Homo sapiens: one gene and its partners. The protein of the gene in region 1 interacts with the protein of each later gene in a pairwise test. Each region holds a gene or a part of one and is shown in the gene's direction. Other genes may lie near its edges. The genes, in order: ITGAM, ARL13B, ELOVL4, SYT2, PIGP, KASH5 and KIR2DL3.

Region 1 (3,500 bases):
AGGATCGTCTGGGCCTGGGAGGTTGAGGCTGCAGTGAGCTATGATCACACCACTGCACTCTAGCCTAGGCGACAGAGTGAGACCCTGTCTTGAAAATAAATAAAATGAAATAAAATAAAATAAAGTATACAGTTCAGTGGCTTTGAGTGAATTCATAGGGTCTTGCATCCGTCATCATGATCCATTTTGGAACATCTTCATTACCTCACAAAGAGCTTCTGTTCCCGTTGGCCCTCAGCCCCAGTCCTCCCATATCCCCCAGCCCTATGCAACCACTAATCTACTTTGTCTATAGATTTGCCTATTCTGGACATTTCATATAAATGAAATAATCCCGTATGTGATCCTTTCCCTAGCATAATATTAAGCAAGGACTTAGCAAGGATCATTCATGTCGTAGTATATGTCAGTACCTCATTGCTTTAAAAAAATTGTTTTTAAATTTTTTATATATATTTTTGAGATGGAGTTTCACTTCGTTGCCCAGGCTGGAGTGCAGTGGTGCAATCTTGGCTCACTGCAACCTCTGCCTCCCAGGTTTAAGCAATTCTTGTGCCTCACTCTCCCAAGTAGCTGGGGTTACATGCGCCCGCCACCACACCCAGCTAATTTTTGTATTTTTAGTAGATACAGGGTTTTGCCATGTTGGCCAGGCTGGTCTCGAACTCCTGACCTCAGGTGATCCACCTGCCTCAGCCTCCCAAAGTGCTGGGATTACAGGTGTGAGCCACCGCACCTGGCCTTCATTGCTTTTTATTTGGTGAACAATATCCTGTTGCATGGATGGGCCATATTTCATGTCTCCATTAATCAGATGACGGGCATTTGGGTTATTTTTTCTCTCATATTTCTGTCATTGTCTCTCCTTTCTCTCACTCCAGGTCACCTTTAATATCACGTTTGATGTAGACTCTAAGGCTTCCCTTGGAAACAAACTGCTCCTCAAGGCCAATGTGACCAGGTGCTCTCTGCTACCAGGCTTCTGCAGGCAGTTGCCCGTCTGACGCCCCAGCCCCTGGCCCATGGTGGGCCTTTGCCCTTTGCCCACTGGTTCTCCCTTCAACTCATTTGTTCACTCAGCAAACACTCACTGACCACCCACCACGTGCTGGGCCTTGTGCTGAGTGCTGGTGGGATGGTGGTGGATCAGACGATAGTGGTTCCTGCCCTCTCGGAGATGATAATTTAGTGGCAAAGACAGACAAGAAATCTAGCCATTAATCTTGCATCCATCTCAAATCCAGTATGAGATGCAAGATTAGATGGGGGACGGCCAGTGTTCTTGGGAGTTTGGTGTTCAGAGAAGATTCCTAAAGAAAATATATTTAGGAGCTGGGCGTGCTGGCTCAAGCCTGTAATCCCAGCACTTTGGGAGGCTGAGGCAAAACAATTGCTCGAACCCAGGAGTTCAAAATCAGCCTGGACAACATATCAATACCCTGTTTCTACAAAAAAAAAAAAATACAAAAATTAGCCAGGCATGGTGGTGCATGCCTGTAATCCCAGCTACTCAGGAGGCTGAGGCACAAGAATTGCTTGAGCCTGGAAGATTGAGGCTGCAGTGAGCTGAGATGGTGCCACTGCACTCCAGCCTGGGCAATAGAGTGAGACCCAGTGTCAAAATAATAATAATAATAATAATAATAAAAAATAAAAGGGAAAAAAAGAAAATATATTTAGACAAAGCAAAGGCATGAACTGAGGGCGGGCATGAAGACAGAAGGCAGGAAGCAGATACCAGGGACGGGAAGATCAGGGTGTGTTTAAGAGTGGCCTCAGCATGAAATGCAGGGCTGAAGGAGTTGGTGGTGGTTAGATACAGGCCATGTCCCAAAATGACTGACGGGTGTTGTTTGGGATTTGCAGTTTCGCCTCTGGGAGTGACATAATCATATTTGCATGTTAGAACGATCACTCTTCAGGAGGGCTGGCGATTGGGGTGGGAGCAGGTGTGAATTCAGGGGACCAGTTAGAAGAAGGTGGTTGCAGACATCCAGCTGGAGAGGGATGGGCCTGGGCTAGGCGGGGGCAGGGGTTGGAGAACAGTGGGGTTTCAGATGCAGAGATAACAGAACTTGGTGGCTGATTGGAGGCAGGGAGTGAGGGAGAGGGAGGAGCAAAGACTAACTGTCAGTTCTCAAGAGCCGGCTGGAGCTCTTTCTTTCCCTCCAGTGAGAACAACATGCCCAGAACCAACAAAACCGAATTCCAACTGGAGCTGCCGGTGAAATATGCTGTCTACATGGTGGTCACCAGGTGCTGGCTTCCAGGACTTTAGCTGAGCCTCCACTTCTGGGCTGGACATGGCTGATTGTGCATCTGTGTGCATGAGTCTGTGCATGTGTGTGTGTGTGAGAGTCTGAGGATCTCTGTGCATGTATGTGTGCATGGGTGTGTATTTGGGCATGGGTGTGTGAGTGTGATGATCTATGTGCATGTTTGTGTGCATGGACGTGTATTTGTGCATGTGTGTGTCTGAGGATGTATCTGCATGTGTGTATGTGTGCATGGGCGTGTATTTGTGGATGTGAGTGTGATCTATGTGTGTGTGCGTGCATGGGTGTGTATTTGTGCGTGTGTGTGAGGATCCTTGTGCATGGGTGTGTATTTGTGCATGTGTGTGTGAGGATCTATGTGCATGTGTGTCTGGGCATGGGTGTGTGTGCATATGTGTGTGTCTGAGGATATATGTGCATTGTGTGCATGGGTGTGTATTTGTGCATGTGTGTGTATGAGGATCTGTGTGCCTGGGTGTGTATTTGTGCGTATGTCTGAAGGTCTATGTGCATGCGTGTGCGCATGGGTGTGTATTTGTGCATGTGTGTGTGTGAAGGTCTATGTGCATGTGTGTGCGCATGGGTGTGTATTTGTGCATGTGTGTGAGGGTCTATGTGCATGTATGTGTGCATGAGTGTGTATTCGTGCATGTGTGTGTGTCTGAGGATCTATGTGCATGTATGTGTGCATGGGTGTGTATTTGTGCGTGTGTGTGTCTGAGGGTCTGTGTGCATGTGTGTATGTGCTCATGGGTGTGCATTTGTGCACGTGTGTGTGAGTGGCCCAAATGGGCACGCACTGTGTGTCCAGCACACATTGGTTCCCCCATCCCCCTGCACCCCACCCCATCTCCACCCCCCAGGACTTCATACCCATTACCCATGTGCCTGTTCGCTCCTTACACACTTAGCCTGAGACACCCTCCCAGGGCACCCCTCATGTTTTGTCACCTCCTGTCCCTTTTTTCTCCCTTCAGCCATGGGGTCTCCACTAAATATCTCAACTTCACGGCCTCAGAGAATACCAGTCGGGTCATGCAGCATCAATATCAGGTGGGCAGCTGGGACGTCTGGGTCCTGAGAAGGAGGCTGGGGAGGAAAATCGATGGTAGAAAATGCAGAAACAGGGATGGGAAATGTGCGCAAGGCACCTGTGGTGTGCCAGGCTTGGTTCCACGCTGCTATCACTCAGTATGCACACATACACGCACGTATGTATGTGAC
Region 2 (3,500 bases), on another chromosome or scaffold:
TAATATTTTTGAAGTTAGAAACAGCTTTTATGGGCCAGGCATGATGGCTCGCACCTGTAATCCCTGCACTTTGGGTGGCCGTGGTGGATGGATCAGTTGAGGTCAGGAGTTCGAGATGAGCCTGGCCAACATAGTGAAACCCTGTCTCTACTAAAAATACAAAAAATTAGCCAGGCATGGTGGCAGACTCCTGTAATCCCAGCTACTTGGGAGGCTGAGGCAGGAGAATTGCTTGCACCCAGGAGGCAGAGGTTGCAGTGAGTGGAGATCTCGCCACTGCACACTCCAGCCTGGGTGACAGAATGAGACTCCGTCTCTAAAAAAAAAGGAATAGCTTTTATCTAATTATCATATTGAAAGTATTGTCTTCCTTAGTTAAAAGATGAGGAAGTTTAGACTTGTAGGTGTTCAAATGATTGTGATAATGTCATTCAGGAAAGATTCAGAATTTAAATGTTTTCTAAGTTCAATCCTCCCTAATGCCATGATGCTTATATTTCTGATTTTTTTTTTTTTTAAATAGAGACAGGATCTCACCATATTGCCCAGGTTGGTCTCAAACTCCTGGGCTCAAACAGTCCTCCTGTCTTGGCCTCCCAAAGTACTGGGATTACAGGCATAAGCCATTGTGCCTGACCAGTATTTCTGATATATTAATTTGTATATCCGTTATATAAAAAGGAATTCTGAGATAAGATATTCTCATATTCTCACTTAGGAGATCTATTATATACATTGTGTTGACTTGAACAATATTAATTATTAGCTTCTGGAGTATGGAAGTCTTCACTTGTTTCGGCAGATAGCTAAAGTGATGTAAAACAGACCTTTGGATCCCTTAATCTCTACCTTTGATTTTTTTTTGTTTTTACTAAGAATTATTTCAGTTTTTTCTTTTGTAATGGAGATTTTATTTGTCGTGTTGAGAATAAGTATACAGACATTTCAAATTGTACACAATTCTTAACATACATACCAAAAATCTAGAAAACCTCTATTGTAATTCCTTTTTCTGAAACGGTCTCTCTCTATTGCCTAGGCTGGAGTGCAGAGGAGTGATCACGGCTCACTGCAGCCTTGACTGCCCGGGCTCAACCGATCCTCCCACTTCAGCCTCCCAAGTAACTGGGAGGTGCATGCCACGATGCCTGGCTAATTTTTTTTTTTAATTTGTAGAGACAAGGTCTCACCATGTTGACCAGGCATGTCTCAATCTCCTGGGCTCAAGTAATTCTCCCACCTTGGCCACCCAAAGTGCTGTGATTATAGGTGTGAACCACTGCACCCGGCCTCTTTTTTAAATAGTTATTATAGTGACATTCCAACTTAACATTTGGAGGCAAATTTTTCTTAAGAGGATTATCAAGAGCCAGTATCTACAAGTGTTTGATAAGCTGTACACGTTCTACCAATTCACAGTTTAATAGCATGTACACTATATACCCAAATTTTCAATCTTTCACAGCACATTAACACAGTTATTAGGAAATCAGGACTTCTGTGACCAAAGATGTTATAGTGTACACAGTTCTGACAGGGAGAGCCATGATCAAGGAGTGGTTTTCTTTAGGAAACAATTCTGTGAAAAAAAAAAAAAAACATGGCAATAGAAGTAATTTAAAATGTTCAAGACATTAAATGCAGGATTCTGACTCTGTATTGCCATTTAGTATATTTTGTATTACAGTATATAAAAACTAAGCCCCCATCTGTGGAATGTTAAGCTGACATCCAAGACAGTCAAAACTTCCTGTAATTCAATATCCCATACTATTCTCTGGTTTCACCAAAAAATAAACAACCAGAGAATTATTTCACCTCAGAAAAAACTTAACAATGGAATGAGGTGGGAGTTCCTGCTACTTAAAATGTTTCTAGAGCTACTAAAAGACTTGCACTTACAAAGCAGTTGATAAAAATACCCTGGATTGTACAAGAAGGGAGACAGGGACTACTGATAAGACATGGTATATGATATTAATCAGACTTGGCTTCTTTCTCTCCTGCTTCATCAAAGGTTGGAGTCTCCTCGGTTTTAGTTTCTTCGTTTTCTGCAGGTAAATCTTATTTAGTTTCTTGGTTAGCCACTTTGGCCTGTTTTCCCTATGCTCCCCTTTTCCCATTTGTTTGCATTTTTTTTTTTTTTTTAATCTGAAGATTTAGCCTTTCCTGATGCCTCTTTGGCTTCATTTCCACTTTTGCAGGAGCAGGTTTAGCTGACAAGTGCGCAGATCTCCTCTTGGGCTCTTGCTTCGCCACCCCTTCGGCTGAACTGACCTTCCTCTTGGGCATCTTGGCGGCAGGAGGGGCACTTGCTGGGCACCTGTGGGCCACGGAGCTGAGAGCCTTCGCGAAGCTGGGCTGCCTGGCTACTGGCACTCCTCCCGCTGCCCGAGCTGCTGAGACCCCTATTTCAGTTTTGAAAGTCTTTCTGTTAATTAGTACCTTGAAACCATGAGCATGTAAGCTTTTTCAGAAAACTTCAGCCAATTTGATATATATGGATATAATTACATTCTTTAATATGAACTATTTTGATGTGAAGATTTATATAAATTAGCTTCATTATAGTACTTTCTCAATCTAAAGTTATGTATTTTAATTTTACTTAGTATTTACTCAGCAAATGGGGTTCAGAAAATGTTTGTTGTTTCTTTCAGTAAAGAAGCCTACTGTGTGCCCAACACATTTGATACAGGCACTACAGAGCTGATAAAGAGAAGTTCTGGTAGAGGAGCCTGTATAAAAAGTAGCCGGGGATGGTTGTGAAGGGCTGAAGGAGTACTCGGCATGGAAGGAATCCTCGGCATGGCAGGCTTCCTGGGAGTGGCAGAAGTGGGGGCTGCCAAATTGAGACTTGATTCTCTATAAGGATTTTAAGCAGAAAAATGCTATGGTTAATTTTTTTTTTTTTTTTTAAACAGCCTCATGCTGTCAACCCAGGCTAGACTGCAGTGGCATGATCCCAGCTCATTGAAACCTTATTTAATTTTCATTATATCCCTTTAGAGTAGCTATTGTTATTATCCTATTTCATTCATGAAATTCTGAAAAGTAATGTGCCATATAGCTTAGAAATGGCAAATCTGGCACTTGAACTCAGGTCTCTAACACCAAATTTGTGGCTACATTTCAGAGTACCCATAATACCTCTTATGTTACTTATTACTAGTATAACATACTGTAAATCTTATAATACTACAGAGTCCTTTGTATCTCAGCCTTTCTAGTAATCAAAGACCCAGGGATGACTATAATATTAGGAGTAAGCGGCTCACTTTCAACTTCTGGAAAGGTTACATCATTAATTATTTGATAATACAGTTTGAGTATCTCTTTTTTTTGTTTTGTTTTGTTTTGTTTTGTTTGAGACGAAGTCTCCCTCTGTCGCCCAGGCTGGAGTGCAATGGCACGATCTCAGCTCACGGCAACCTCCACCTCCTGGGTTCAAGTGATTCTCCTGTCTCAGCCTTCTGAGTAGCTGGGATTGCAGGTGGGCG
Region 3 (3,500 bases), on another chromosome or scaffold:
GTTAACAACAAAAATGTTACTTTTACTACAGTATTAACACTTTGTACATTGGAATTGAAAGTTTGAAAGAGCTATACTTTTAGAAAAACAACAAAAATAATTTTTATTTCTCTGTATTTGTAGACATTTTGAACGAGGAAATTAGCGTTGGTTTATGTTAAAGTATAGGCTGGTGTAGGACTTTATACTAGTTGTTAGTATTAGAGTAGGTATTCCATGTCATCATGTTAGTTTTTTTCTTCTATTCTTTCACTTCATGAGTACATTTAAATTATTAGGATTGGAGTCCTAGGCTCAACGTATACATCTAATAAAAGTTGTATATACATTTTTTAAACTGATGAATCTAAATATTCCCCAATCTATGAATACCCAACTTATCTACATTATTCATTTATTCATGCTTTTAATAAATGTTTAATAGCTTTTTTGCATACCTGACATTTAGCATATAAACACCCTAGAGAGTTAGTAGGATGCTTACGGTAAAGCCAGGTGTCTCCTGTGAGGCCATGTATCTTCTGACCATTTGTTTCTAAATAGCTGTTGTTCACAGGGTATGGGTGCTGTCTGTTGGTTGGGGGTGGTAATGATTGGCATTGGCCCTCTTTTCGCAGATATAGTACCCTGCATTTTGGTGAAAAAAATTGTCTACTTGGTAGTTGCAGTTAGAACATAACTTGCTGGGTCCTTGAATTAACTTTGGAGGGGTCAGAAAGAAGGGATGAGTGGTACAGGAAGAGGGAGGAGAGCTGTAGGATGACGAAATGTGGAAGCCAGGCTTATGATACCATTTCTTTCCGTATTTACTTGCCATGTACAGGCACAGTTCTAGGCTCTGGAAAGGAAAGGAGGACACTTGGTCACTGCCCTCATGCATCTTGCAAAGTCTAGGGGGTCACTGTCATTCCCCTTTCCTTGATATCATGGTCTGGAGGCAGTGTGATCTGTCAGACTCAGGACTAGCTGGGGCCTAGGGAAGATCAGAAAAGTCCTTCCCTGCTCTTCTCATCTCTACTTCTCCTAAGTGAAAGGAATATACAGTTGTTTTTAGAATATTTTAGCTGTTTCACCACAGTTTACTTCCCTCTACCCTTGAATGAGGAGTTGATGTGAGTACTGTCAGAGTATTTGGAGAGGCATACTAGGGCAAAAGGTGTCAAAGGCAAGGGGAACAGCTTGACTGAAAACCATGGAAACTGGGAAGGTGCTTAAGGGTCAGGCCAGTGAGTCATCCAGGTTTGATGAAGCTGGGGGCTAGTGGGAGGGGATGTTTAACTCAGCTCAAATAAGCTGAAGTAAAAGCAGGTTTGTCTTAGGGATTGCTAGGTCCCAGAGGAGCATGTATTTTAAGTATTGTACAGTATGCTTACATTAATTTTATTATTCGTCACAGTTAATGTTTAGTTTTTCATCTATGTTATTATCTAAAATAGGTTTATTTGTTTGGCTAAGCCTGGTAATGCAGTTTTCTTTGAATGTTTCTTTGAGAAAAGACATTCTGATTCCAAGTTGTAGGCAGCTAATTAAAAAAAAAAAAGAAAGAAAGAAACATCACCAGCTCCTAACATGGGATCTCCCTTGGTCACTGTTTTCAGTGACGTCCTAATTATCCTTTACTCATAAGCTCCTTGAAGCCTCTGGGATGTCCATGCCATTTTATGGTTTTTTGTTTTGGTTTGGTTTTTATTGTCTTTTCCTTCACCACAGTTTGATTTTTGGTGGTAGACTGCTAGACTTTAATAGCTAATGCTCTTATCCATTCCCCAATGATAGCATAAAGTAAAACATCCTATTGCAGATGGAATTCCAGGAGGGTAAACAATGCAGGTTCTAAAACGGGTGTCAGGACACAGTTTTAACTATTTTAACTTAGATTCTTTGGCTTAGGAAGACAAAGTTTTAAGAATTATGCAGATAATTATATCAGATGGCACTTTTGTAAACTTAAGAGCCACAGAGCACTTGGTCATCCTTTAAAAATTCAATTTGTTTTCTTATTTTTTTGCTCAAGTCCTGTGGATAATGTCACCTGTAAATGCTTTAACATTATTAACGTAAGTATTTTCATTTGTTAAGCCACTTATTATTCTGAATTAGGCATATATTAGCACACCGAAATGAGTAGTGTAACAGTCTATCTTTTTTCACTTTAGATGTTTTTTTCGTCTTCATTATCAGGACATTTTGCCTGTTAACAAACGAAGGTACTATTGTTTTATTTTCTATTAGAATATATATTTTAAAATCATGTGGGTTTGGATTTCAGAAAGGAGATGGGAGGAAACACATGGCCTTTTAAAGCCAAGGTCCACATTAACTTTCTCGCTTGATCCTTCAGTATTCCCCTGCCCAAAGACCTGCAGCTCTAGCCAACTGGGATAACTCACTGACCCTTAAGTAAAATGTGTACATGTCCACCTTTATGTTTCTCATCCCACCATTCCCCTTGCCTTTACCCACCTTTTCCCTGTTTACCTCTCCAGATACCTTTTACCAGAACCCAGTACAATAGTCCTCCTTTGCAAAGCCTTTCTTGTTTATGGTACCCTGGAGCAAGTTGTTGTCTCACAGGAGCTCATTGTCTTTAGTAATTACTCACGTATTTCCTGTGCCATTCCTTCTATGACCCTAGTGTCAAACTGTTTAAACTTTCGTTATTATTTACCACTTCACTCCTTTGTATCTTTCTCTCCAACATCAGAGATTATCACATATATTTGTTGATATGATATGTATCAGGAGATGACCCTCTTAATCTAGCATAATTTTGAATCATGATATATTGTGGTTGCTAAACATGAATAAGGCTTTAGACCACACTAAATTACAGAAGGTTTTTGTTTTTGTTTTTCATAGAGTGGGGATTTCACCATGTTGCCCTGGCTGCTCTTAAACTCCTGGTGTCATGTGATCTGCCCACCTCAGCCCCACAAAGTGCTGGGATTACAGGCACGACCCACTGTGCCCGGCCAGAGAGTTCTTTAAAAGAATGATATTTTTTATGAGTTGGTCATTAATTCAGTTGCCGTTCACTAAATTTAATGAGTAAATCAGGCCATTAAGTCATTTAGAAGCACAAAACAGATAAAAAATGAAGATTCCAAGACATATAAAATCAGATATGATTGTTCTCTTCATTGTCTGTGCAGAAGCATTGCCTTGTGTGGAAGTGAGGAGGGCAGTGTGGTATAGTGAATGGGAAGAATTCTGGACTGGGATTTAGATGACCTAGGTTTTAGTCCTGGTCTGCTGCTGATTTGCTATGAGAGTTTGGACAAGTTCCTTTGCCTTCCCAATTCTCAGCATTGTTCTCTGTAAATTAAGAGGGTTAAATTAGGTAATCTGTAAGGTCCTACCTGACTCTAAAAGTCTAGATATAGATATCACTTTCTTTATTCTTGGAATAGGTAAAGCAATTTCAAATAAATATACATTTATCAGGGATTCAGAAACCTCATTCTTTATAGTAAATAAAATTTTTTTCCAGCAAAACTGTT
Region 4 (3,500 bases), on another chromosome or scaffold:
CAGGGGTCTAGAACTAGAAATACCATTTGATCCAGCAATCCCATTACTGGGTATATACCCAAAGGATTATAAGTCATGGATTATAAGTCAAGGATTATAAAGACACATGCACACGTATGTTCATTGCGGCACTATTCACAATAGCAAAGACTTGGAACCAACCCAAATGTCCAACAATGATAAGACTGGATTAAGAAAATGTGGCACACATACACCATGGAATACTATGCAGCCATAAAAAATGATGAGTTCATGTCCTTTGTAGGGACATGGATGAAGCTGGAAACCATCATTCTCAGCAAACTATCGCAAGGACAAAAAACCAAACACCGCATGTTCTCACTCATAGGTGGGAATTGAACAATGAGAACACATGGACACAGGAAGGGGAACATCACACTCTGGGGCCTGTTGTGGGGTGGGGGGAGGGTGGAGGGTTAGCATTAGGAGATATACCTAATGTTAAATGACGAGTTAATGGGTGCAGCACACCAACATGGCACATGTATACACATGTAACTAACCTGCACATTGTGCACATGTACCCTAAAATTTAAAGTATAATAAAAAAATAAGTGTTGTCTGGGATGTGGAAAACTTGGAACCCTCATACATTGCTGGTGGGAACATAAATTGGTGCTGGCACCTTAAAATGTCAAACATAGTTATGACCCAGCAATTCCATACCTATGTATATACCCAAGAGAAATGAAAACATATGTCCACGCAAAAACTTATGCATGGATGTTCATAGCAGCATTATTCATAATATCCCACAAGTGGGATATTATTAGCTATATTTAGTTATAAAATAGCCCAAAGTGGAAATAACCCAAATATTTATAAATTGATGAATGGATAAATATAAAATATGTTCTAGGCAAGGTGCGGTGGCTCATGCCTGTAATGCCAACATTTTGGAGGCTGAAGTGGGAGGATTGCTTGAGGCCAGGAGCTCGAGACCAGCCTGGGCAATATAGGGAGACCCCATATCTACAAAAAATTAAAAAATTAGCTTGGTGTGATGGCATGCACCTGTAATCCCAGCTACTCGGGAAGCTGAGGTGGGATGATCACTTGAGCCCTGGAGGTGGAGGCTGTAGTAAGTGGTTGCACCACTGCACTCCAGCTGGGTGACAGAGTGAGACCCTGTCTCAAAAAAAAAAAAAAATGTTTTCTATCTACACAATGGAATACTATGTGGCAATAAAAAGGGAATGAAATACTGATACATGCTACAACATAGATGAACCTTGAAAACATCATACTAAATGAAAGAAGCCAGTCACAAAGACCACATATTTTATAATTCCATTGATAGGAAATGTTTAGGATAGACAAATCTATAGAGTCAGAAAGTAGATTAGTGGTTGCTGGAGCTGGGAAGAGGATGGGAATGGAGAGTGACTGCTAATGGGACTGGGTTTCTTTTTGAGGTGGCAAAAATGTTCTAACTTAGGTTATGCTAATTGTTCCACTATTCTGTGAATACAATAAAATGCACTGAACTGTGTACTTTAAAGGGTGACATATGTGAATTACATCTCAATAAAGCTGTTTTTTAAAAAAAAAAGGTCACAGAGCCCTGAACAGTGTGGTAGAAGTGAGGGGAGATGGACATGGCGGAAGGCCCTGGACACACATCTTTATCCCTTTGTGTGGCTACTTGCAGTTCCCGCCAAACCGGACCCATCTCTTTGTCCCCAGAGGCGAAGTCCAGTGGACCTTGGTTTTTCACTTCAAGACCAGTTTTGGGGTCAAGGCTATTTCAACATGGCAGACAGTAAGAGTTAAATAAATGCTTGGTGAATGAACCTACATTGCATCAATGTACAGGCCACCAGAAGTACTTAAGGCTGGAGCAGTCTCCAGGGCTGGGGAGGGGATCTCAGCAGGTTTTTAAAGGAAGGGACAGAACTTAAGAGCTCCTAAAATGTTCCTTCAGAAGAACCCTGAGTCTAGAGGAGAGTTAACTCATACCTAACGTGCAGTGAGAAAAGTCTCACATTTTTTCTTTAAATTCTTGTGCTGTATGCATCCTACTCTATTATTTCCAGCTTGTTTTAATTTAAAAATACTGTAAATTGCCATTCAGTAAAACGGATGCCTCAGGGAGTTGTGCTGTTTATTCTTGCATCCTGGAATACCTGTGGGTGTATGCTGCTATGTTCCCTCAGAGGAGCCCAGTCAACAAATACCCAGAGTGCCCGCTGTGTGCTTGGCACAAGGGGTGCTGTTGCCAACACAGGATCTGCCCTCATGGGACTTTCAGTTGAGAAATAAGTGCATAGCCCTGAGGAGCAGAAAGAGCTTGGTGGAGAGGACAGAATTATGGGGGGCAGAGTTTGGAAGCTCGTAAGAACATTGCCTTAAATGAAGACCAACATTTATGCTCAGTGTTTTACTAGGAAAAAGTTGAAAACTGCCTAAATGTCTACCAGTGGAATGGCTAAAAAAATTATGGTGTTACCATATAGTAGGATATTATGTAGCTATTTAATAATAAAAAACAATAAAGGAAAAGGCTTATGATGAAATTTTATGTAAAAAATCTTGAAAAAAAACTATACATAGTATGGTCTCAACATGTAAAACATACTCAGAAAAAATACCAGCATAGAATGCCCCAAATGCTAGTTGACTTTGGAGGGTAGAATTATGGGGGGATTTCTCTCTCTCTCCCCAAATTTTCTACAGTAAGTCTGGGTTATGTTATTAATAAACATCACATCTTTGATGCGGGAAGGCTAATCTACAGCTGCATGTGGGGGCAGGGCTAGAGATGAACCTGGAGTAGGGGCCACAGAGTAGACCGGGGAGGAAGGGCTAGAGATGGAGATGTGGGTGCCGTCTTCCTACAGGAGAGGTCAAAACAAACCCTGAGTGGGCACTGAGGGAGCCCGTGAAGAAACCGCAGAGAGCTGAGGAGTCTCGCGGGGCAGGAGGAGGAATTGGAGTCAGGGATGAGGAGAGTCAAGTGTCATGGAGCTGGGCAGAGATTCTAGGCAGAGTAGTATCTAGAAATCCTTGGAAGTCAAGGAGAGAGGTTGAAAGAGGAGCCCTCAGTGTAAAACCTTGTCTCCTTCCTAGAGTGGTGAGGTTAGATTTCAATGAGATATAGGAGAGTGATTAGCTATACAGGCTCTGGAGTTGGGCAGACCAGTTCAAACCTCAGTTTCAGAACTTACAGCTAAGTGACCTTGGAAAAACTATCTAACCTCTCTGAACCTGTTTCCCCATCTGTTAAATGGAACCAATAAAAACCATTAGGTTATTTTTTGGATTAGATGAATAATGCATGGAAAGTGTTTTGCACAGTGCTTGGCACATATATGTACTATTTTTTTTAAGAGACAGAACCTTACTTAATCACCCATAGCTCATGTAACCTCAAACTCCTGGACTCAAGTGATCCTCTATCACTTCAGCCCCCACTATGCCTAACTAAAAAAAAAAAATTTCTAAAGATAGGGTCTTGCTATGCTGCTCAGGCTGACTGT
Region 5 (2,599 bases), on another chromosome or scaffold:
AATTTAAAAAACATGTTGGCTTTGTGACCGACTCTTGAGAATTACAACTTTTTTAAAGTGTCTATTATGTACTTTAATATTCTCTTTGGCAGATATTGGGCAGTTGCATTACCTGTCTACCTCCTTATTGCTATAGTAATTGGCTACGTGCTCTTGTTTGGGATTAACATGATGAGTACCTCTCCACTCGACTCCATCCATACAATCACAGGTAACTTTATATAAAAGGAAAGTGCTGGGGCAATGAAAGAGTGGAGTATTAGCACTTTTACCCAGAAAAGCAACAAAGAACAGGCTGCAAAACCCATGTTGGTGGTGCGCGTCTGTAATCCCAGCTACTTGGGAGGCTGAGGCAGGAGAATCACTTGAACCCAGGAGGCAGAGGTTGCAGTGAGCCAAGATCCCACCACTGTACTCCAGCTTGGGTGACAAGAGTGAAACTCCATCCTAAAAGAAAACACACACACACACACACACACACACACACACACACACACACACGGACAGTAAAAAGAAGCTACTAAGAGAAATAAATACAAACTTATATAAAAGGAAATATTTGCATGAAGGAATTAAGTTCTGATGAATACACACTAGCTATATTCATGGAGGAAATAAATTATAATTAATTATAGCACTGGTTAGCAGGTGTATGTTCCCATAAAAACCACAAGTATATGCTATATGTGTCTATAATATGTTCCCATTAACTTTGCCTGAGAGAAGCTTATCCTGAACAGACACCGTTGATCAAGGGATAGTAAATAGTACATGCAGACCTTGTTCAGAAAAAGGACTTTGGGGGTGTGTATCCTCCTCAGGATCATTGTGTACTCCTTATTCCAATTAAGTGGATAAAAGAGCCACAACACGTTCGTCTGGTTTTATTTTTTTAAAGTTCTTTCAAGTCTAAAGATGAAAATAAATCAGACTCCTGAGCTTGCTTAAATTCTAGAAAGTAAAGTATTTTTTAAGTTCCCTGGTATGATTTTTCAACTTTTCAAAACCTTTATATATTAGCCTCTACAATGTATTTTGAAAATCAATTCTATTATTTTTAAGTGTCTTTCTAATACACTGCATTCCATGCATTCTTGATTGGAATTGGCAGCAAATAGGTAATTTGTGCAAAGAGGGGAAATTGTTAAGATTGCATGAATATTTATACCAAATGATTTAATAGTTTTGCCATGTTGATTTAAATACATTTTCAAGGCCTGGATATAATTCTGTTCCCGTGAGAAATGTGCAAATGAGACTTTAATCATCATTGTATGGTTGATTAAAATATTGATTTCTTTCCAAGTTAGAGATGAAAAAAGTACTTTACTGATGTTTTTATTTTTTTATTTTTATTTATTTATTTATTTATTTTTTATTTTTTATTTTTGAGATGGAGTCTCGCTCTGTCACCCAGGCTGGAGTGCAATGGCGCAATCTCGGCTCACTGCAGGCTCCGCCCCCTGGGTTCACGCTGTTCTCCTGCCTCAGCCTCCCGAGTAGGTGGGACTACAGGCGCCCGCCACCTCACCAGGCTAATTTTGTGTGTTTGTGTTTTTAGTAGAGACAGGGATGTTTTTATTTTAATTGGGACATTTCTTCTAAAGAGAGGATTTAAGTAATCATCTAATTATGTTAAACATGATGTTTGTCACTATCCAAACGTCAGCCTAGTAAACTATGTGGTGGGTCTCCATCAGACACAGAGACTGTAGAAGAAATTGCTTAGGTAAACAGAGCTTTTTGGTCTTTTCTTACAGATAACTATGCAAAAAATCAACAGCAGAAGAAATACCAAGAGGAGGCCATTCCAGCCTTAAGAGATATTTCTATTAGTGAAGTAAACCAAATGTTCTTTCTTGCAGCCAAAGAACTTTACACCAAAAACTGAACTGTGTGTAACCATAGTAACACCAAGCACGTATTTATTTATAAGTTTTTGCCATTATAATTTTGACCATAAATTAATTTGACCATCTCTCTTATTAATAGAGAAGTAAAAAATGTAAGTTGACCTTCTCTTAGATTATGTTCAATGAATATTGTAAATGTTCAAGTATTGTTAATGAATAGAATAAATACAATATTGCATTCCCATATAGCAGACTTAAAAAAAAAAATCAATGTCAGTATAATCAAGAAGTTCCTCCAGAGAGGCATTTATATTGTAATTTGCAAAGGGCAATGATGTCCTTCCTCCTGTTTGTCCTGAGGGGCCCAGAATTCAAACCCTTAGTTTTTGGGAAGGGTACAGTTAGTACTTGTGCCATCAGATTCATGTCTAAGACACAAATATTTGTTGAGTACTCACTGTGTACCAGGTATTTTTCTAGGCACTGAGGATGAAGTAATGGTAAGATTCTCTCTCAAAGAGCTTATAGTTTTAGAAGCAGGGTGAGGCAACTAAGCAAATAAACAAGGAAATATAATTTGATGAGTGCTATGCAAAGAATTAAGATAATGTATTCTAGAATGCAAAGGGATGACTAGTTCACATTGGGTGGTCAAGGAAGGCCTCTCAGAGAGAGGCTGTTGGGATCTAAGTATAAAGCAGGTGAGGCAAAGACCATAAGGTGGGAAGGAACTTGGTTTGTCCTAA
Region 6 (3,500 bases), on another chromosome or scaffold:
GGTGAAGGCCTTTTAGAATGAGGAAAACTTGGGGGACGTTGATGGAAGAGGGCAGAGTTTTGGGGTCGTGGGATAGGGGAGGGAGGCAGCCACCATGGTGGCGTGGGGCATGGCTGATGCTGTCCCTATGTCCATCCCCTTTGGTTTACCCTGTGATGGGGGGATGACTGGGCCCCATTTCCAGGTGAAAAAGTGGACTCAGAGGAGGGGAAAGGGCTTGCCCAGTGTGTCTCCACTGGGCCATGGAGCAGGAGTGCCACCAGCCTAGCCAGTGACATCCTGGTCCCAAGCTGCTGCCAGTCCATACCCATCACTCCCCACCTGCCCCAGACCCCCTCACTGCATGCTCTGTCACAGGCACTGTGGCTGTGGCCCAGGTGCTGGCCTACCTGGAGGCTGTGACAGGCCAGGGCCCCCAGGATGCACGCCTCCAAACATTGGCCAACAGCCTGGACCCCAATGGGGAGGGCCCTAAGGCCACTGTGGACTTGGACACTTTCCTGGTTGTCATGCGTGACTGGATTGCTGCCTGTCAACTACATGGGTGAGTCCCCACATCTTCATCCTCCTCTGGGAAGTCCTTCCTAAGATCTAACCTCATACCTGCTTACTGGAGCCAGCATCCTTTAGGCCCAAGGACCTACTGTGTTTGGAATGAGGCTGTGGAGAGAAAAATGAAGAGACGGGATTCAGAGGGGGTAGATAGGGAGTCTGAGGACAAAATAATTTGGATGAGGAAGCAGAGGGGGTCTGGGAGACAGAAATAAAATGGGGCTGGAGAAGGGAGGAGTTTGGGGCTGACAGAGGTCCCTCCCCAACCCTTCACCAAACCCACTCCTTGCCCCTCCTGCTTTTCCATCTGGCCACGGGCACTTGCCATCTGGCCTCACCCTCCTACCCTGTGGTGCCAGCTCTCACCTGACCCGGTCCCCTCCTCCCACCTGCAATCCCCCTGCCTGTGGCTGGTGAGGACTGAGGGGCAGCTACAGTGGGGCGCTAAGCCTCATCCCTTTGATACAGGGGATTAGAGCTGGAAGAGGAGACCGCCTTCCAGGGAGCCCTGACCTCCCGGCAACTGCCATCTGGTGAGATTGCTATATATAGAATGAAGCAGGCAGGCCCTGGGTCAGACAGTGTGGGGACTTACCACCCAGGGCAGAGCAAGGGATAGGGTAGGAACCAGGGACCTTTACTGTAGACTAGAGCTGTGAGTGTGGCTTTCTAGGTCCTCCGTCCCTTCCTTCCGTGAGCTTTGGGTTTCTTTTCTTCAGAGGGTGGTTTCCAACTCGTTCTCCTCACACCAGCCCTATTAGAGAGGCCTACGAGGCCCCGCCTACCTCTGCTCCATCATTAACATCACCTCTCCTCACTCTAGTCCAGGAATTCACAGGCCCACTGGTCTTGCTGCCCTTCCTCGAATGTGCCCCACTTCTGCCCAGCACAGGTCCTTGCTCAGGCTGTTCCCCTCCACTCCTTGCTCCCCACCCTGCTGGACTTTTTTTTTTTTTTTTTTTTTTTTTTTGAGATAAGAGTTTCACTCCTGTTGCCCAGGCTGTTGTGCAATGGCGCAATCTCAGCTCACCGCCACCCCCGCCTCCTGGGTTCAAGCAGTTCTTCTGCCTCAGCCTTCCGCATAGCTGGGATTACAGGCATGCACCACCACGCCCAGCTAATTTTGTATTTTTCATAGAGACGAGGTTTCTCCATGTTGGTCAGGCTGGTCTCGAACTCCCGACCTCAGGTGATCCAACTGCCTTGGCCTCCCAAAGTGCTGGGATTACAGGCGTGAGCCACTGCGCCAAGCCGTCATCCACTCCTCTGGCAAAGGGGAAGCCCTGGTATGCCCCTGGCTAGAGTTCCTTGCTCCCCATGCTCACTCCTAGACTTGTAGGCCTTTCCATTGGAACATCCACCTGCAGAGGAAATCTGATTATCTAGTTAGCCACTGGCACCTGGGTTTAGTTGGCTGGTTTGCTCACCATTGTATCCCCAGGACCTCACACATAGGAGGTGCTCCATAAAAAAAGTGGTCATGATTACAGGCGTGAGCCTGTAATCCCAGCATTTTAGAAGGCCAAAGTGGAAAGAACATTTGAGCCCAGTAGTTTGAGACCAGCCTGGGCAACATAGTGAGACACCATCTCTACTAAAAATAAAAAATTAGCTGAGTGCGGTGGCATGTACCTGTGGTCCTAGCCGGGACACTGAGTCAGGAGGATCGCTTGAGCCTGAAAGGTCAAAGCTGCAGTGAGCCATGCATTGCACCACTGCACTCCAGCCTGGGCAATAGAGCAGGATCCTGTCTTTTAAAAAAAAAAAAAAAAAATGGTGGTCATGTTCCATTTCTCTAGCCATACAAAAAACGGTGGGGAAGGAAGTTCTCTTCAACCTCCTTCATCAGGCTTGGGGGCCCAGGGAGGGCTGCAAGCAGAGGAGGGACTAGAGGCCAGAAGGCCAGAGAAGAGGCTCTGGTGAGGATCCAAGAGGAGAAAGCAAGGGCCGGGGCATGGAGACAGAGAGGAGGGGTGGAGCAGAGAGTCAGGGGCAGGAGGGAGAAGTCTGGGCTCTGCTGGACTGGGGGTGACAGGGAGCAAGGGAGCCAGGTCCGCCCAGTGGCTGAGTGGTCGGTGGGGGATCTGGGAAGGGGAAGGTGAAGTGCTGCCCAGTGTTGGGTGTAAAGAATGTGGGGAGTTAGGGTTATCTGGGAGATCCAGCCTGAGCTCAAGGTAGAAGACAAGCAAGAGGGCTTTACAGTGGGTATAACTGCAGCCCCAAAAGCCCATGAGATTCTCCAGAGCACAGGTGAGGGTGGAGGCAGATGGAGTCCAACCTCAGAGCCCTGGGGCACTTTACGTTTAAGGGTTCCAGGGAAGCCAACATTCTCTTGGCTCTCTCCCTCCAGGATGCCCAGAAGCTGAGGAGCCAGCCAACCTGGAGAGCTTCGGAGGCGAAGACCCCAGACCCGAGCTGTACCTATCCTCACACCCCTCCCTGACCCTCCTGCCCACACCCTGTCCCCTCCAGCCTGCCGAGGCCCGGGTAGGGCTTGGGATCCTTCAGGGAAATGAATGAGGGACGGGGCTTTGCTGAAAGTTCAGGGAGAGCAGAGGAGTCTCTCTCCTGTTTATCTTTCCCCAAAAGAGCCACATCTCCCCACCACCAGCACCTACCTCGACCCGGGGAAATGAGTCAGGGGCTGTGGACAGTGACCTGAACCCCTTCCTTGCCCCTAGACAAGCCACAGCTGACCTGCTGAGCAGCCTGGAGGACCTGGAGCTCAGCAACCGACGTCTGGTTGGGGAGAATGCCAAATTGCAGCGGAGCATGGAGACAGCTGAGGAGGGGTCAGCACGCCTTGGGGAGGAGATCTTGGCTCTGCGTAAGCAGCTTCACAGGTGGGCTGGATGCCACACCCACCCTCCCCAGCGCCCCTGCCTCCGTCCTCCCTGCAGCAGCCGGCCTCTATCTCCCATGCTCGTGTCTGCATCCTGCTCTTTGAC
Region 7 (4,270 bases), on another chromosome or scaffold:
AAAATATTTTGAGAAAAAAAATCCCCGAAGTTTCAAAAAGCAAAAAACTATGTTGAATCGACACAAATTGAGTGGCGTGTAGGCTGTGTCAGGAATTATAAGTAATCAAGAGATGATTTCATGTATACAGGAGGATGTGCATGGGTTCTATGCAATTGCTATGCTATTTTTTTTTTTTTTTTGAGACAGTCTCACTCTCTCACCCAGGCTGGAGTGCAGTGGCGTGATCTCAACTCACTGCAACCTCCGCCTTCCAGGTTCAAGCGATTCTCTTCCCTCAGCCTCCCCAGTAGCCTCCCCTAGGATTACAGGCACGTGCCACCATGCACAGATAAATTTTTTTGTGTGTATATTTTTAGTAGAGATGGGGTTTCAGAATGTTGGACCAGCTGGTCTTGAACTCCTGACCTTGTGATCTACCCAGCTCAGCCTCCCAAAGTGCTGGGATTACAGGCGTGAGCCACGGTGCCCAGCTTCACTATGCCATTTCATGCAAGGGGCTTGAGCATCTGCAGATTTTGGTATCTGAATGGGGATCCTGGAACCAATCACCCAGGTATAGTGAAGGACCATGGTATATAATTTTTATTTGTCAATCTTAAAAATAAAGCATAAAAAATTTACAACAACAAGATAAAAAATAAGAAGTGTTTTTATAGTGTGAGGATAAGTTTAGATTTATTTTTTCCTACGTGTAACCCTATGGTCCTGTGTTATTTGTTGAGAAAATATTCTATTCCACCTTAAACTACATGGCAGCCTTTGTCAACTATAAAGGGACTGTGTATCCACAGATGTATTTTAGACACAGTTTTCTGTCCAGTGGTTCTCTGTATCCCCTCTCATGAGGATGCTGCATTTTATATAAACTTATAGAACCCCTTAAAATTTGGTAACCTGAGTCCTCTGATTTGTTATTATAGGTTATTTAGTTTGCTTTTTTTTTTTTTCTTGAGACAGACTCTTCCTCTGTCACCCAAGCTGGAGTTCAGTGGCTTGAGCTCAGCTCACTGCAACCTCCGTCTCCCAGGTTCAAGCTATTCTGATGCCTCTGGTTTAGTAGTAGAAACTCAAGCAGGAAAATTAGAATGGCTTCTTGTCACAATTACTCTGATAATGTTAATAATACCTGTTAGACATTTTGCACATTACATATGAAGAAGAGTTTGAATCTCAGATAAAAACAAAAATACATCAAAAATCTTTAATGTAAGCACAGAATTCAATCATCTCGTGTATGAGAGGTTGGATCTGAGACGTCTTTTGAGTCTGGTCGTAGTGAAGGACGCAAGGTGTCAATTCTAGTGAGAACAATTTCCAGGAAGCCATGTTCCGCTCTTGAGCGAGCACCCACTGGGCCTCATGCAAGGTAGAAAGAGCCTGCGTACGTCACCCTCCCATGATGTGGTCAACATGTAAACTGCATGGGCAGGGCGCCAAATAACATCCTGTGCGCTGCTGAGCTGAGCTGGGGCGCGGCCGCCTGTCTGCACAGACAGCACCATGTCGCTCATGGTCGTCAGCATGGTGTGTGTTGGTGAGTCCTGGAAGGGCATCGAGGGAGGGAGTGCGGGGATGGAGATCGGGGCCCAGAGTTGGAGATATAGGCCTGGAAGTGGAGTTATGGGCCTAGAGATGGAGTGATGGGCCTAGAAGTGGAGATCTGGGCCTGGAGTGGAGATCTGGGCCTGGAGTGGAGATATGGGCCTGGAGGTTGAGATATGGGCCTGCAGTAGAGATATGGGCTTGTAGTGGAGACATGGGCCTGGAGATGGAGATATGGGCCTGGAGATGGAGATATGGGCCTGCAGTAGAGATAGGGGCCTGGAGTGGAGATATGGGCCTGGAGTGGAGATATGGGCCTGGAGTGGAGATATGGGCCTGGAGGTGGAGATATGGGCCTGGAGGTGGAGATATGGGCCTGGAGTGGAGATATGGGTCTGGAGGTGGAGATACGGGCCTGCAGTAGAGATATGGGCCTGGAGTGGAGATATGGGCCAGGAGTGGAGTTATGGGCCTAGAGGTGGATATCTGGGCCTGGAGTGGAGATATGGGCCTAGGAAGGAGATATGGGCCTGGGTGTGGAGATATGGGACTGGAGAGGTGATATGGGCCTGGAGTGGAGATATGGGCTTAGGGTGGAGATCTGGGCCTGGGGCGGAGATATGGGACTGGATTGGAGATAGGGGCCTAGGGTGGAGATCTGAGCCTGGATTGGCGATATGGGCCTAGGGTGGAAATATCAGCCTGGAGTGGAGATATGGGCTTGGGGTGGGGATATGGGCCTGGAAACTGGGTCTCTGCACAGCCGACAGCCCTGTTCTTGGGTGCAGGTAGGCACTGAGGGTGAGTTTAACTTCAGCCCAGGAAGGGCCTGGCTGCCAAGACTCACAGCCCAGTGGGGGCAGCAAGGGAGGCCTGGTTTGCCTGCAGATGGATGGTCCATCATGATCTTTCTTTCCAGGGTTCTTCTTGCTGCAGGGGGCCTGGCCACATGAGGGTGAGTCCTTCTCCAAACCTTCGGGTGTCATCTCCCCACATAAGAGGATTTTCCTGAAACAGGAGGGAAGTCCTGTCGGGGAGTCTCTCATAAACTAGGAAGAGAGGACCCTGGGGTGCTCAGCCCACATTTCTGACCTCGCCTCCCTGGCCTCTCAACCCCTTGGCAGAGTCAAGTTCTGTGGGGACCAGGGTTAGACTGGGGTGCTCAAAGCTGGGGTGTGTGGTTGGGAAGTGGTAGGAACAGCAGATCCTCTGAGGACAAAGGTGTTACTCACACACTTCAGCGTTTCCATGATGGTAGGGGCTGCAGTGTGGCTGCTGTCATTCTACCAGAAGAGGTGGGAAACCACAGCCATGGCCCTGACATTCCAAATCCTCTGATGGGGGCTCAGTTGTTTATTTTCGTTCAGGCATCCGCTGATATCCATTCACAAAGGACATGCCCTCCACCTCATGTCTACCCTGTGTTGTTTTATGTGAGTAATCTTACAGTATTAAAATCTAGTAGGAGTCTCTTTACTCAGCACTTGCTCAAAGTTCTCAGCTGAGGCTTTTGTTGTAGGGAGACACCATGTCTTTGCGGGATGGGTCCTTCCTTCAGCCCTGGGCACCAAGGTGTGATAGTAGCCATAGAAACGTGGAAAGCGAGGAGAATCTTCTGAGCACAGGGAGGGAAGGGCAGTTCCACATCCTCCTCTCTAAGGCGGCGCCTCCTTCTCCCCAAGGTGGTCAGGACAAGCCCTTGCTGTCTGCCTGGCCCAGCCTTGTGGTGCCTCTAGGACATGTCATTCTTCGGTGTCACTCTTATCTTGGGTTTAACAACTTCAGTCTGTAAAAGGAAGGTGGGGTGCCTGTCCCTGAGCTCTACAACAGAATATTCTGGAACAGCCTTTTCATGGGCCCTGTGACCCCCGCACACACAGGGACATACAGATGTCGGGGTTCACACACACACTCCCCCAGTGGGTGGTCAGCACCCAGCAACCCCCTGGTGATCGTGGTCATAGGTCAGAGGGCTCCTGTCTTGGATTCTCCTTGTCCCACCTCCTGAATCCCAGAGCTTCTGTTGGGCATGTCCTTGAGGGTCCCATCACGCAGGCCCTGACTGTATTTGTGGTAAAGGGGGATTGAATACAGGGAAATGGGTGCTGTGGTGGGAAGAATAATTGTCCCCAGTGATGACTACATTCTAATCCCTGGAGTCTGTGACTATTTATGTTATAGGGGAAGGGACTGAAGGGGAAGATGGAGCTCATGGGGAGACAGCCTGGACTGTCCCACTGGGCTCAGTGTAATCACAAGGGTGCACATGAAAGGAGGAGGAAGAGGGGAGTGGGGATTAGAGCAGTCCAGTGGAAGTCTTCACCAGCTTTGAAGGTGGAGGAAGGCCAAGATCCATGAATGCAGGTGGCCTATAGAGGCTGGAAAAGTCAAGGAACTGATTCTCCAGAGTCTCCAGAGGGAACAAAGCCCTGCAGATGCCTTGATTTTAGCCCAGGAAAAATAGGGTCCAATTTCTGTCTCCAGTACTGGAAGGTGTCAGTGTGGTCTCTCCTGCTGCCATGCTTCTGATAATTTTCTACAGCAGCAACAGGAAACCAACACTGGAACCCAGGTCAAGGACAAGTTAAGAAACAACCCAAGGAAAGCCAGGCATGGTGGCAGGTGCATGTAATCCTAGCGACTCAGGAGGCTGAGGGCAGGAGAATCACTTGAACCCAGGAGACAGAGGTTGCAGTGAGCCTAGACCACACCACTTCACTCCAGC

What was found.
Region 2: the proteins of ITGAM (region 1) and ARL13B interact in binary tests that used the Homo sapiens proteins (3 or more experiments, as listed by UniProt).
Region 3: the proteins of ITGAM (region 1) and ELOVL4 interact in binary tests that used the Homo sapiens proteins (3 or more experiments, as listed by UniProt).
Region 4: the proteins of ITGAM (region 1) and SYT2 interact in binary tests that used the Homo sapiens proteins (3 or more experiments, as listed by UniProt).
Region 5: the proteins of ITGAM (region 1) and PIGP interact in binary tests that used the Homo sapiens proteins (3 or more experiments, as listed by UniProt).
Region 6: the proteins of ITGAM (region 1) and KASH5 interact in binary tests that used the Homo sapiens proteins (3 or more experiments, as listed by UniProt).
Region 7: the proteins of ITGAM (region 1) and KIR2DL3 interact in binary tests that used the Homo sapiens proteins (3 or more experiments, as listed by UniProt).

What each region holds. Positions count from the first base shown.
Region 1 is NC_000016.10:31,325,975-31,329,474, forward strand, and holds part of ITGAM (integrin alpha-M isoform 2 precursor), read left to right. Parts: intron 1-881; coding exon 882-961; coding exon of another isoform or gene 962-1,004; exon of another isoform or gene 1,005-1,025; intron 1,026-2,172; coding exon 2,173-2,256; intron 2,257-3,253; coding exon 3,254-3,329; intron 3,330-3,500.
Region 2 is NC_000003.12:93,986,655-93,990,154, forward strand, and holds part of ARL13B (ADP-ribosylation factor-like protein 13B), read left to right. Parts: intron 1-1,291; exon of another isoform or gene 1,292-2,408; intron 2,409-3,500. UniProt on the Homo sapiens protein: Cilium-specific protein required to control the microtubule-based, ciliary axoneme structure. May act by maintaining the association between IFT subcomplexes A and B. Binds GTP but is not able to hydrolyze fit; the GTPase activity remains unclear.
Region 3 is NC_000006.12:79,941,054-79,944,553, reverse strand, and holds part of ELOVL4 (very long chain fatty acid elongase 4), read left to right. Parts: intron 1-3,500. UniProt on the Homo sapiens protein: Catalyzes the first and rate-limiting reaction of the four reactions that constitute the long-chain fatty acids elongation cycle.
Region 4 is NC_000001.11:202,605,955-202,609,454, reverse strand, and holds part of SYT2 (synaptotagmin-2), read left to right. Parts: intron 1-514; exon of another isoform or gene 515-3,500. UniProt on the Homo sapiens protein: Exhibits calcium-dependent phospholipid and inositol polyphosphate binding properties. May have a regulatory role in the membrane interactions during trafficking of synaptic vesicles at the active zone of the synapse.
Region 5 is NC_000021.9:37,064,874-37,067,472, reverse strand, and holds the end of PIGP (phosphatidylinositol N-acetylglucosaminyltransferase subunit P), read left to right. Parts: intron 1-92; coding exon 93-211; intron 212-1,760; coding exon 1,761-1,891; 3' UTR 1,892-2,099; downstream 2,100-2,599. UniProt on the Homo sapiens protein: Part of the glycosylphosphatidylinositol-N-acetylglucosaminyltransferase (GPI-GnT) complex that catalyzes the transfer of N-acetylglucosamine from UDP-N-acetylglucosamine to phosphatidylinositol and participates in the first step of GPI biosynthesis.
Region 6 is NC_000019.10:49,394,749-49,398,248, forward strand, and holds part of KASH5 (protein KASH5), read left to right. Parts: intron 1-357; coding exon 358-544; intron 545-1,020; coding exon 1,021-1,085; intron 1,086-2,902; coding exon 2,903-2,969; intron 2,970-3,233; coding exon 3,234-3,395; intron 3,396-3,500. UniProt on the Homo sapiens protein: As a component of the LINC (LInker of Nucleoskeleton and Cytoskeleton) complex, involved in the connection between the nuclear lamina and the cytoskeleton.
Region 7 is NC_000019.10:54,737,043-54,741,312, forward strand, and holds the start of KIR2DL3 (killer cell immunoglobulin-like receptor 2DL3 precursor), read left to right. Parts: upstream 1-1,470; 5' UTR 1,471-1,503; coding exon 1,504-1,537; intron 1,538-2,464; coding exon 2,465-2,500; intron 2,501-4,270. UniProt on the Homo sapiens protein: Receptor on natural killer (NK) cells for HLA-C alleles (HLA-Cw1, HLA-Cw3 and HLA-Cw7). Inhibits the activity of NK cells thus preventing cell lysis.